Homo sapiens: one gene and its partners. The protein of the gene in region 1 purifies or fractionates together with the protein of each later gene. This does not show direct contact. Each region holds a gene or a part of one and is shown on either strand. Other genes may lie near its edges.

The links.
Region 2: the proteins of POM121C (region 1) and MARF1 purify together in Homo sapiens (affinity purification with mass spectrometry, with the first as the bait; one large-scale study listed by BioGRID). This does not show direct contact.
Region 3: the proteins of POM121C (region 1) and SEPTIN14 purify together in Homo sapiens (affinity purification with mass spectrometry, with the first as the bait; one large-scale study listed by BioGRID). This does not show direct contact.

The regions. Positions count from the first base shown.
Region 1 is NC_000007.14:75,437,683-75,441,334, forward strand, and holds part of POM121C (nuclear envelope pore membrane protein POM 121C), read right to left. Parts: intron 3,434-3,652; coding exon 3,272-3,433; intron 1,543-3,271; coding exon 1,462-1,542; intron 5-1,461; coding exon 1-4. UniProt on the Homo sapiens protein: Essential component of the nuclear pore complex (NPC). The repeat-containing domain may be involved in anchoring components of the pore complex to the pore membrane. When overexpressed in cells induces the formation of cytoplasmic annulate lamellae (AL).
Region 2 is NC_000016.10:15,622,508-15,626,159, forward strand, and holds part of MARF1 (meiosis regulator and mRNA stability factor 1), read right to left. Parts: intron 3,294-3,652; coding exon 2,865-3,293; intron 2,667-2,864; coding exon 2,509-2,666; intron 2,421-2,508; coding exon 2,262-2,420; intron 620-2,261; coding exon of another isoform or gene 617-619; coding exon 427-616; intron 1-426.
Region 3 is NC_000007.14:55,838,664-55,842,315, forward strand, and holds part of SEPTIN14 (septin-14), read right to left. Parts: intron 1-3,652. UniProt on the Homo sapiens protein: Filament-forming cytoskeletal GTPase. Involved in the migration of cortical neurons and the formation of neuron leading processes during embryonic development.

The DNA of each region.
Region 1 (3,652 bases):
AGGCCTAATAAAAGAGAAGACAGTTAGATGCTTTATTGAAGGCAACATTCTTTTACGATTTCATCCACGGTCATGACATCTTTCTTAATAACATGAAGGGAAGAGAATAATGCTTTTAATTTTTACTGCTAACAATCTGGCCAAATCTATCTGACAAAGTCAGTAAGAAAAGCCAAATATTTAAAACTTAAATGTATGATTTATAGAATATTCTGGAAAATGCATACCTATCTACAGTGACAGAAGACAGATCAGTGGATGCCTGGGGACACGGGTGGAACTAAAGAGAGGGATTACAGGCATGTGGGAACTTTTGGAGGTCATGGATGTTCATTATCTTAGTGGTGGGATGGTTCCACAGGTGTATGCGTGTCAAAATGTCACATGCTTTAAACAAGTACAGTTATGTCAATTATACCTCAACAAAGCTGTTAAAAAAAAATCAGAGTTAAGAGGAACCCATCATTTTTCTAAACCTCCAATGGAAACAGAAATCTCCTATGCATCTTTCCTGTAGGACAGTCATCCAACCTGTTACAATATAGACAACGCTCTCCTAGAGTGACCCACGTCAACCATGAACCAGTTTATTCTCACAGTGGATTACAATGTATTTCCTCTAACTTTCACCCACGGATCCTATTTGAAGTCAAACAGAGCAAGTTATTTCGCTTCTTTCAAGGGACAGTCCTTTGGTTTTTTGGAGACCATTGTCCTTCCCTCACTTATTTCTTTATTCCTCCTGAGATTTTTCTCCTCTGGGTTAATACTTCCATACCTCCAAAACCCCATCATCCACCACCACCCCTCTGGGCTGTTGCAAATCTCCTTAACATCTTCGTTGCTTCACTGGGAATGAATTTCCGTTTGTGTACATCCTCCCTCGCAGTGCAGTACGCTGATCTGACCACAGTGCTCCACGGACAGTGAGCAGAACTACGGAAGGCAGGAATACCTGCCTCATTCTAGTCTTTCTTCTAACAGCACAGACCAGGAGCACTTTAGCTTTCCTGGTGGCCACATCACACTGCTGACTCAGATGAGGTATCTAAGTTATCCTAAGTCTTTCCACACAGACTTTTGAGCCACTTTCCTTTCCACCCAATTCTTCCTCCAATTTGTTTTTAAACTGACATGTAGAAATTAAACATTTAAGTTTCATACTGTCTTATCCGCTGCACAAACTTTGCAATCCTTCTGTGTATGTGCTTGGTTATTAAATATATTTATAAAACCTCTAGTCTCAGCATATTTCATCCATATTAATGCAAGAACATTAAAAGGAATTAGACAGAAGGCAGTTAATTGTGACAAGTTACTCAGAATATTCCTAATTTCAAAGACATGAACCTGAACTAATTAAGCAATGCAAAAAACAAAGAGGAAAATCTATAGGGCAACAGCTCTGATCAGGCCTTTTTCCAAACAGTTGGTATTTCATCTGGATGGACTCGCACTTACTTAGGCACAAAAGAAGCGGGGACTCCACTGGCCACCAGGGGCTCAAATGCTGAATGTCCACTGCCACTGCTATCATGGCGCCTGCGACAAATCAAAAAAGTCTCAAATGAAATGACATGACTTTGTTTGTCCCTTTAAAGTGTATTCTCACATTTCTGGGACCTTATACTATCTCTATGGAGCACAGATTCCATGCTAGACCAGAAAATGGTTGTTTAAAATCCCTAAGTTTCTGAAAGGTAAATTTTTTTTTTTCAGACAGAGTTTCACTCTTGTTGCCCAGGCTGGAGTGCAATAGCACAATCTTGGCTCACTGCAACAAACCTCTGCCTCCCGGGTTCAACCAATTCTCCTGCCTCAGCCTCCAGCGCAGCTGGGACTACAAGTATGCACCACCACACCTGGCTAATTTCTTAATTTTTTGTACAGGCGAGGGCTCCCTATGTTGCCCAGGCTGGTCTTGAGCTCCTGGGTTCCAGCGATCCTCCCACCTTGGCCTGTCAAAGTGTTAGGAGTACAGGCATGCACCACCATACCCAGCCTTATAAAATGGTGTTTCCCTCAAGAGTCCCATGAGAGCAGAGATTTTGTCTTGTCCACTGCTCTATCCACAGTACTTGCAGTAGGGTCTCATACACAGTGGGTGCTCAGTAAATGCTCACCCACTTCAACTTCTTTTCTTTCTGTAATTAGAAAACTATTCCATTTTCATTAGGTTATTTTACAAACCACATAAGGAATTTTTTTTTTTTTTTTTGAGACAGTCTCGCTCTGTCACCCAGGCTAGAGTGCACTGGCATGGTCTCGGCTCGCTGCAACCTCCGCCTCCTGGGTTCAAGCAGTTCTCCTGTCTCAGCCTCTGGAGTAGCTGGGACTACAGGCACCCACCACCACATCCAGCTAATTTTTGTATTTTTAGTAGAGACGGGGTTTCACCATGTTGGCCAGGCTGGTCTCGAACTCCTGACCTCAGGTGATCCACCCGCCTCGGCCTCTCAAGGTGCTGGGATTATAGGCGTGAGCCACCTTGCCCTGCCAGGAAATTGGTTTTAATCTCATTATTGATAAAACTACCAAACTCTAGTTTTCATTTTTCTTTCCCAAGCATTTCCTTCAGCACAATTAAGACACTAGAACTGGTGGGCCGGGCGCCATGGCTCAAGCCTGTAATCCCAGCACTTTGGGAGGCCAAGGTGGGCGGATCACGAGGTCAGGAGTTTGAGACCATCCTGGCCAATATGGTGAGACCCTGTCTCTACTAAAAATACAAAAAAATTAGCTGGGCATGGTGGCGGGCGCCTGTAGTCCCAGCTACTCGGGGGGCTGAGGCAGGAGAATGGCATGAACCTGGGAGGCTGAGCTTGCAGTGAGCTGAGATCGGGCCACTGCACTCCAGCCTGGGGGACAGAGACAGACTCCAACTCAAAAAAAAAAAAAAAAAGACACTAGAACTGGTGGTTACCCAAATAACTGAACACCACAAAATTCCGACCGGAAGACTTAGAGCCTTCTTTCTTGAAAATAAACTTTTAACACGTTTCTACAGAAGCATGAGGCTAACATGGCTAATAGCTGTCAGCTTATCTCTGCTACTCACAGAAAAGGTAAATTATGACATCGATCTAACCTGTGCCTTGAAATGAACAGCATTAAAACCCTTGTTATTAGGTTCTCTCATGAAAGCCAAAGAAGGAGGCCTATGAAGGCTCACAAACTGGACGTGGCCTCTGTATCTTTACGGGAATGTCTACATCTCATCCCATAGGGGTCCAAGCGGGAAACTGGCTTAGTACTCTCCTGAGCCTGTTACCTTCTTTTATTTTCCTGGCCATCAAGGAATATTTGGTCTTCTTCCTCCACTGTCCTTTTCTTCTTCTTCTCTTTGAGGGCACTCAGTACAGTCTCCTTTGCACATGGGTCTGGGGCATTACTTGATGGTGACGACAGTGTTGAGCTGATTATCTGCTCTGGTCTATAATGAAAGACAAGATTCTAGCCGTAAGATATTTTAATTCCCATGCCACATCAGAAACGGAAATCAGAAGCTAACCAACAGGCCAAAGTATAATTTATACACTCACAACAGTTCCCCTTAGCAAGTAAAGCTACTTTTTCGTTAACGGCAAAAAGTGAAAAACAAACGGTTTTACTAGAATTTGGTATTTCTCATTCAAACAAGCAGATTCGTCCT
Region 2 (3,652 bases), on another chromosome or scaffold:
TAGCCTCCTAAGGAGCTGGGACTACAGGCGTGCACCACCACGCCCGGCTAATTTTTTTTTAGTAGAGACGGGGTTTCACTCGCCAGGCTGGTCTCAAACTCCTGACCTCAGGTGATCTGGCCGCCTTGGCCTCCCAAAGTGCTGGAATTACAGGCATGAGCCGCCATGCCTGGCCACAAATTGCCATTTCAATTTCTGCCTAAGACAAGAGCTTTTCACTGCTAGGCGTCTTGCTCTCTGGGGCTAACATTGTAAAAACTGGATTTATAGCACCACCCTGAGCAGACCAAAGGGAAAAGGAAGGAGTTCAAACTTGTTCAGTCACACTTCTATCCCGGCTGTGGTTATGTATATCAAATTAGGTCCTCTTGACTAGAGACTCCATCAGAGAGTATAACAAAGCAAGCACAAGAGGGAAAAAGTTACCTTGCCATGCCTGGCAAATGCTTCCTGCAGGAGCTGCTGCAGCTCCTTCCGGGATAATCTGTAGTCTATGTTGCTGACTTGGACATCAGCACCATTTGCAAATGGGTCTGGGCAGTCGGCTTCGCTGCTCGAATTTGCAATGTTGAAAGCAAGCGGGGATGCTCTGTTTAAAAGGTTTGGAGACATACTCCTGCTTAAAACACACATATTGACATTATTTTAAAAAACTGTTCTGTATATTTAGATTTTATCATTTAGGCTTTGTTTGAAACTATATACAGAAGCAGATTTTCCACAACACAACCAAACCAAACATTTGGTTTTCAAATGTGTTTTTAATCTTTTTTTTTTTTTTTTTTTTTTTGAGACAGAGTCTCGCTCTGTCACCCAGGCTGGAGTGCAATGGCACGATCTCGGCTTACTGCAACCTCCACCTCCTGGATTCAAGCAATTCTCCTGTCTCAGCCTCCCCAGTAGCTGGGACTACAGGCATGCACCACTACACCCAGCTAATTTTTTTTATTTTTGGTAGAGATGGGGTTTTACCATGTTGGCCAGGCTGGTCTTAAACTCCTGACCTCAAGTGATCCACCTGCCTCAGCCTCCCAAAGGGCTGGGATTACAGGCGTGAGCCACTGTGCCCAGCTGTGTTTTTAATCTTAAATACACATTGATTTCAGACATTGTCAAAAGTACTATCTACTGACCCCTAATTACCGCCAACCAATTAATATATATTCTTCCTTTGGGTTAAAGCTAAAGGCAGGAATTAGAGGCAGTCCTGATGAATTAACCTTCTGCTTTGTGCATTATCCTTAGGAAATCAGCCTGTGATACCAATTTAAGGCGTCTAACCTCCTCTGTGTCTCTGAAAGAGTTAAACGTTCTTGCCTACATGTTACAGTTCTTTCTGCACATAAGGAAAACTTTTATGTGGCTTTTTAGATGTAATTTTATAGATCCATAGTCACTTTCTCTTTTTTTTTTTTTTTTTTTGAGACGGAGTCTCGCTCTGTCACCCAGGCTGGAGTGCAGTCATGCGATCTGAGCTCACTGCAACCTCCACCTCCCAGGTTCATGCCATTCTCCTGCCTCAGCCTCCCAAGTAACTGGGACTGCAGGCACTCACTACCACGCCCGGCTAATTTTTTGTATTTTTAGTAGAGATGGGGTTTCACCGTGTTAGCCGGTTAGCCAGGATGGTCTTGATCTCCTAACCTCATGATCCTCCCGCCTCGGCCTCCCAAAGTGCTGGGATTACAGGCGTGAGCCACCACGCCCGGCTGATCCATAGTCACTTTCTACAGTGATCTGCCACCAACTCAGCAGAACAAACACAATGCTAAAAGGAGCTCATGGGAATGCAACACGGCCTTACGGCTTCTCTGTCTCCCAAGCATCAAGAATTCCTTGGTGTGAGAGACAGTGATAAATAATTACCATGGTTTACAGAAAACTTTACTTCCAAATAGCTTCCTATACAGAACCATATGAATCAGAACCACCAATGCACGGCTCGTTTGGGCTTTTTCCTCAACACAGCGAACATAGGGACATCTTTACATGCCCCCCTGCACTGGCCAGGGACTCTCCAACAGGCTTCTCTTTCTGACCTCTGCTTACCACAATTTCCAGATGGAGGAAGAAGAAATGGTGAAAGCATTGCCCCTAAATGTTAACGATGATTACCTGAGGAGAGGGGGACTGGCAGAAGAGTGATGGGAGACTTACTTTGTGCATTTCAGTACTATCTGAATTCTTTTCAACAAACATACTATTTCATAATCCTTCCTATTACATGTAACCACCCCCATGGGTCAAGAAGCTGGACTCACCTAGAAGACCAAGACTGAGATGCGAGCAGAGGACTGACTTGCCTGGATGCAACTAACTTGCTAAAAGCAGACGGGTAACTCACTTGGAATACAGTCTCCTCTTTATCTTTTTTCTCTACAGGAGAACTGGTAACACTTCGGGCACTGAGGTTCTCCTTTCTAACAGAAGGGGAAAATTGAAGGCAAAAGGTCATATGTCTTCCTTCACATTCAAGAAGCAGCTATGAGAAAGAGTAGTTTCACATACTTCTGACTGGTTTTGTAAACGGGTTCTGCCACCCCCGAGTTTTTCGGCGTCGACACTGCAGCACTTGAGTTACCGTGAGTGGGTACGACCAGCCTCAGGTGACCTTGCTGGTGCTCACTGTTTCTATGACCAGTTTTTGACTCCATGCGGCACAGCTCCTTCAAAGACACAAGCACAGTGGGGTTTAAATTTTAAGTACCCAAGATGTGTTAGATCCTTTACAGAAAACGATTGACTTTGAGTATCATCAAACACTGAAATCAAAAAGGGACACGCCAAAAGCAAGCGGGCACGTAAAACACAGAAACAAACCAAACCTACCATAAACTTCAGAAAGCAAGAGGTATCAAAATTACCTGTAAACTTTTAACATTTGTATTTTTTGTAGCAGATCCAGAATTTGCCTGTGACCCTTTTCCAGGCGTGGCTTTGGCACTGGAAGATTGTTCACTTGCATCTTTGATGAGGCACAATTTTGGATTCTTAAGTTTTTTGGGAGACTTCACTTTATCAGCAATTGCATTTGAACTCTTTGTTTCACAGAGTTCTCTATTTTTTGGAGTAAATGACACAATGATCCTATTACCAAAGACATCTTCGTTTTCCATTCGCTTCTGAGCGCGCTCTGCACTATCTTGGTTTATGAAGCGGAGAATTGCACTGCAGCCTGTGATACTCAGCACTTTCCCACCACAATTATCGGACAGGCGTCTGAGCCTGTTGCTGACGCTCTTGCCATCCTTATTTGCTGGTAGGTTATAAACATAGAGCAGAGTGTGGCACTGCTAATACAGAGGAAAGAAGTGTTACGTCAGGTTAATTCAAGGGCACACATTCAATTTCAAAATAAGAACAATGGGTGACCTCCAAACTTCAGTTAACAACTTTGAAGAGAAGATGACAGTGATTTAGATGGGAGAGGGTAAATTATTTAGTGTTGACAAAGTAACTGAATATTGTTTTAAAGAATATGCTTTAGCTGGGCATGGTGGTGCATGCCTACAGTCCCAGCTACTCAGGTGGGAGGATTACCTGAGCCCAGGAAGATTGAGGCTGGAGTGACTGTGCCACTGCACTCCACTCTGAGTGACAGAGTGAGACACTGTCTCAAAAAATAAAAATAAAAAAGAATATGCTAGGCACA
Region 3 (3,652 bases), about 20 Mb from region 1:
AACTCCTGGGCTCAAGCAATCCCACAGGTGCACACCACCATGCCTGGCTAATTTTTCTATTTTTTTGTAGAGATGGGGTCTCACTACATTGCCCAGGCTGGTCTTGAGCTCCTGAGCTCAAGCGATGCTCCTGCGTTAGCCTCCCAAAGTGCTGAGATTACAGGCTTGAGCCACAGAGCCCAGCCCAGTTTCACTTTCCACAATTTCCCGTAATCAACAGCAGTCCAAATATATTAAATGAAAAATTCTAGAAATACACAATGTAGAAGTTTTAAATTGCATGCAATTCTAAATACTGTGATGAAATGTCATGTTGACCCACTCCTTCTCACCCTGGATATGAATTATCTCACTATTCACCTCATTTTATCTCAACATGTAGGCATTGTATTATCTCACATCATCATAAGAAGAGTGAGTACAGTATAATAAGATATTTTGAGGCCAGGCGTGGTGGCTCACACTTGTAATCCCAGCACTTTGGGAGGCTGAGGCAGGCGGATCACCTGAGGTTAGGAGTTTGAGAACAGCCTGGCCAACATGGGGAAACCCCATCTCTACTAAAAGTACAAAAAATTAGCCGGGCGTGGTAGCGGGCACCTGTGATCCCAGCTACTCGGGAGGCTGAGGCAGGAGAATCACTTGAACCCGAGAGGCAGAGGTTGCAGTGAGCCGAGATTGTGCCACTGCACTCCAGCCTGGACAACAAGAGCAAAACTCCGTCTCAGAAAAAAAAAAAAAAAAAAGATATTTTGAGAGACGCAGGTAACTTTCACATAACTTTTAGTACAGTGTATTGTTATAATTGTTCTATTTTATTATTAGTTACTATTGTTAGCTTCGGTCTGCATCTAAGAAACTAACAATAATAACTAATAATAAAAGAGAACTGCATCTCATTTATAAATAAATCTTTATGATAGGTATGTATGCATAGAAAAAAACAGTATATATCAGGCTCTGTACCATGCATGCTTTCAGGCGTCCACTGGGGATCTTGTAACTTACTCCCAAGGGTGCTACTCTATAGGCAAATGGCCATGATCTGGGAGGTAAGTCAAGGTTGAAATCTATCAAATGTGAGTTGTCTCCCCCAGCAACCAAAAAATTTGTATGTTGAAGCCTCAACCCCCCAGTACCTCAGAATGTGACCTCAACTGAGATAAAGCCTTCAAAGAGGTGATTAAAAAGTGAGACTGGGTCAGGTGCGATGGCTCACGCCTGTAATCCCAGCACTTTGGGAGGCCGAGGTGGGCAGATCACCTGAGATTAGGAGTTCGAGACCAGCCTGGCCAACATGGTGAAACCTTGTCTCTACTAAAAATACAAAAATTAGCTGGGTGTAGTGGTGCATGCCTGTAATCCCAGCTACCCAGGAGGCTGAGGCAGGAGAATCCCTTGAACCTGGGAGACGGAGGTTGCAGTGAGCCAAGATCACACCACGGCACTCCAGCCTGGGCATTAAAAAAAAAAAAAAAGTGAGACTGTTACAGTGGGGCCCAACCTAAACTGACTGGCACCCTTATAAGAAGATAAAATGTGAGGCCGGGCACAGTGACTCACGCCTGTAATCCCAACACTTTGGGAGGCCGAGGTGGGTGGATCACCTGAGGTCAAGAGTTCAAGACCAGCCTGGCCAACATGGTGAAACTCATCTCTACTAAAAATACAAAAAATTAGCCGGGTGTGGTGGTGGGCGCCTGTAATCCCAGCTACTCAGGAGGCTAAGATAGGAGAACTGCTTGAACCCAGGAGGCAGAGGCTACAGTGAGCTGAGATTGCACCACTGTACTCCAGCCTGGGCAACAAAAGCGAAACTCCGTCTCGAAAAAAAAAGACAAAATGTGGACACCCCGGAGACACTAGGAAAAACACCATGTGAGAACACAGAGATAAGGTGGTCATCTGCCAGACAAGGACAGAGATTTCAGAAGAAAGCACATCTTCTGACACCTTGATCTTGGACTTCTGTCCTCCAAGACTGTAGGAAAATACATTTTCATTGTTTAAACCACCCAGTCTATGGCATTTTGATATCCCAGCCCTAACACACTGATGCAAATGCCTCAAATATTAACAGAAAAAGATAATTAGGATATATACATATATTACAAAATGACAGGTACAGTCGTGCACCACATAATGGCATTTCAGTAAATGATGGGCCACACATATGATGTTGTTCCCATAATATTATAATACTGTACCTTTGCTTTTTGTTGTTGTTATTATTTATTTATTATTTATTTATTTATTTACTGACTCTTGCTCTGTCGCCCAGGCTGGAGTGCAGTGGCGCAATCTCGGCTCACTGCAACCTCCGCCTCCCTGGTTCAAGCGATTCTCCTGCCTCAGTCTCATGAGCAGCTGGGATTACAGGCGCCTGCTACAACGCCCAGCTAATTTGCTAATTTTCTGTATTTTTAGTAGAGACAGGGTTTCATGATATTGGCCAGGCTGGTCTTGAACTCCTGATCTCAGGTGATCTGCCCACCTCAGCCTCCCAAAGTGACGGGATTACAGGCGTGAGCCTCCGCACCTGGCTATTTAGAGATCTATTTATTGAATTTCTGGATTCAGGGGATATATGTGCAGGTTTGTTACTTACATATATTGAATATTAGTGAGGTTTTGGTCTCTCGTGTGCCCATCACCCAAATAGTGAGCATTGTACCCAATAGGTAATTTTTCAAATCTCAACCTCCTCCCACCCTTCCCCTTTATAAAGGGCCCAGCGTCTATTATTTGTCTAATACTGAAACTTTTTTTATGTTTAGATACACAGACAAGGCTGGGCGCAGTGGTTCACGCTTTGGGAGGCTGAGGCGGGCAGATCACTCGAGGTCAGGAGTTCAAGACCAGCCTGGCCAACATGGCAAGACTCCGTCTCTATTAAAAATACAAAAATTAGGCCGAGCACAGTGGCTCACGCCTGTAATCTCAGCATTTTGAGAGGCTGAGGTGGGTGGATCACCCGAGGTCGGGAGTTCGAGACCAGCTTGACCAACATGGAGAAACCCCATCTCCACTAAAAATACAAAATTAGCCAGGCATGGTGGCACATGCCTGTAATCTCATCTACTCAGAAGGCTGAGGCAGGAGAATCGCTTGAACCCAGGAGGTGGAGGTTGCAGTGAGCCCAGATCACGCCATTGCACTCTGGCCTGGGCAACAAGAATGAAACTCCGCCAAAAAAAAAAAAAAAAAAAAAAATTAGCCGGGCATGGTGGCACAGGCCTGTCAGGCCTATAGTCCCAGCTACTTGGGAGGCTGAGGCCAGAGAATCACTTGAACCCAGGAGGCAGAGGTTGCAGTGAGCCAAGATTGTGCCACTGCACTCCAGCCTGGGAGACAGTAAGACTCCATCTCAAAATAAAATAAAATAAAATAGATACACAGATACTTACCATTGTGTTATAATTCTACAGTATTCCGTACAGTACCATGCTGTCCAGGTTTGTAGCCTAGGAGCAATAGGCCATACCATAAAAGGCTATAGCCTAGATGTGTAGTAGGCTATATCATGTAGGTATGTGTAGATACACTCTAAGATGTTTGCATAATGATGAAATCACCTAAAGATATGTAACTACACTTGCATGCAAGTGCCTTCAAGATGTCTTATTATCTCAAAATTAATATTACATCATGA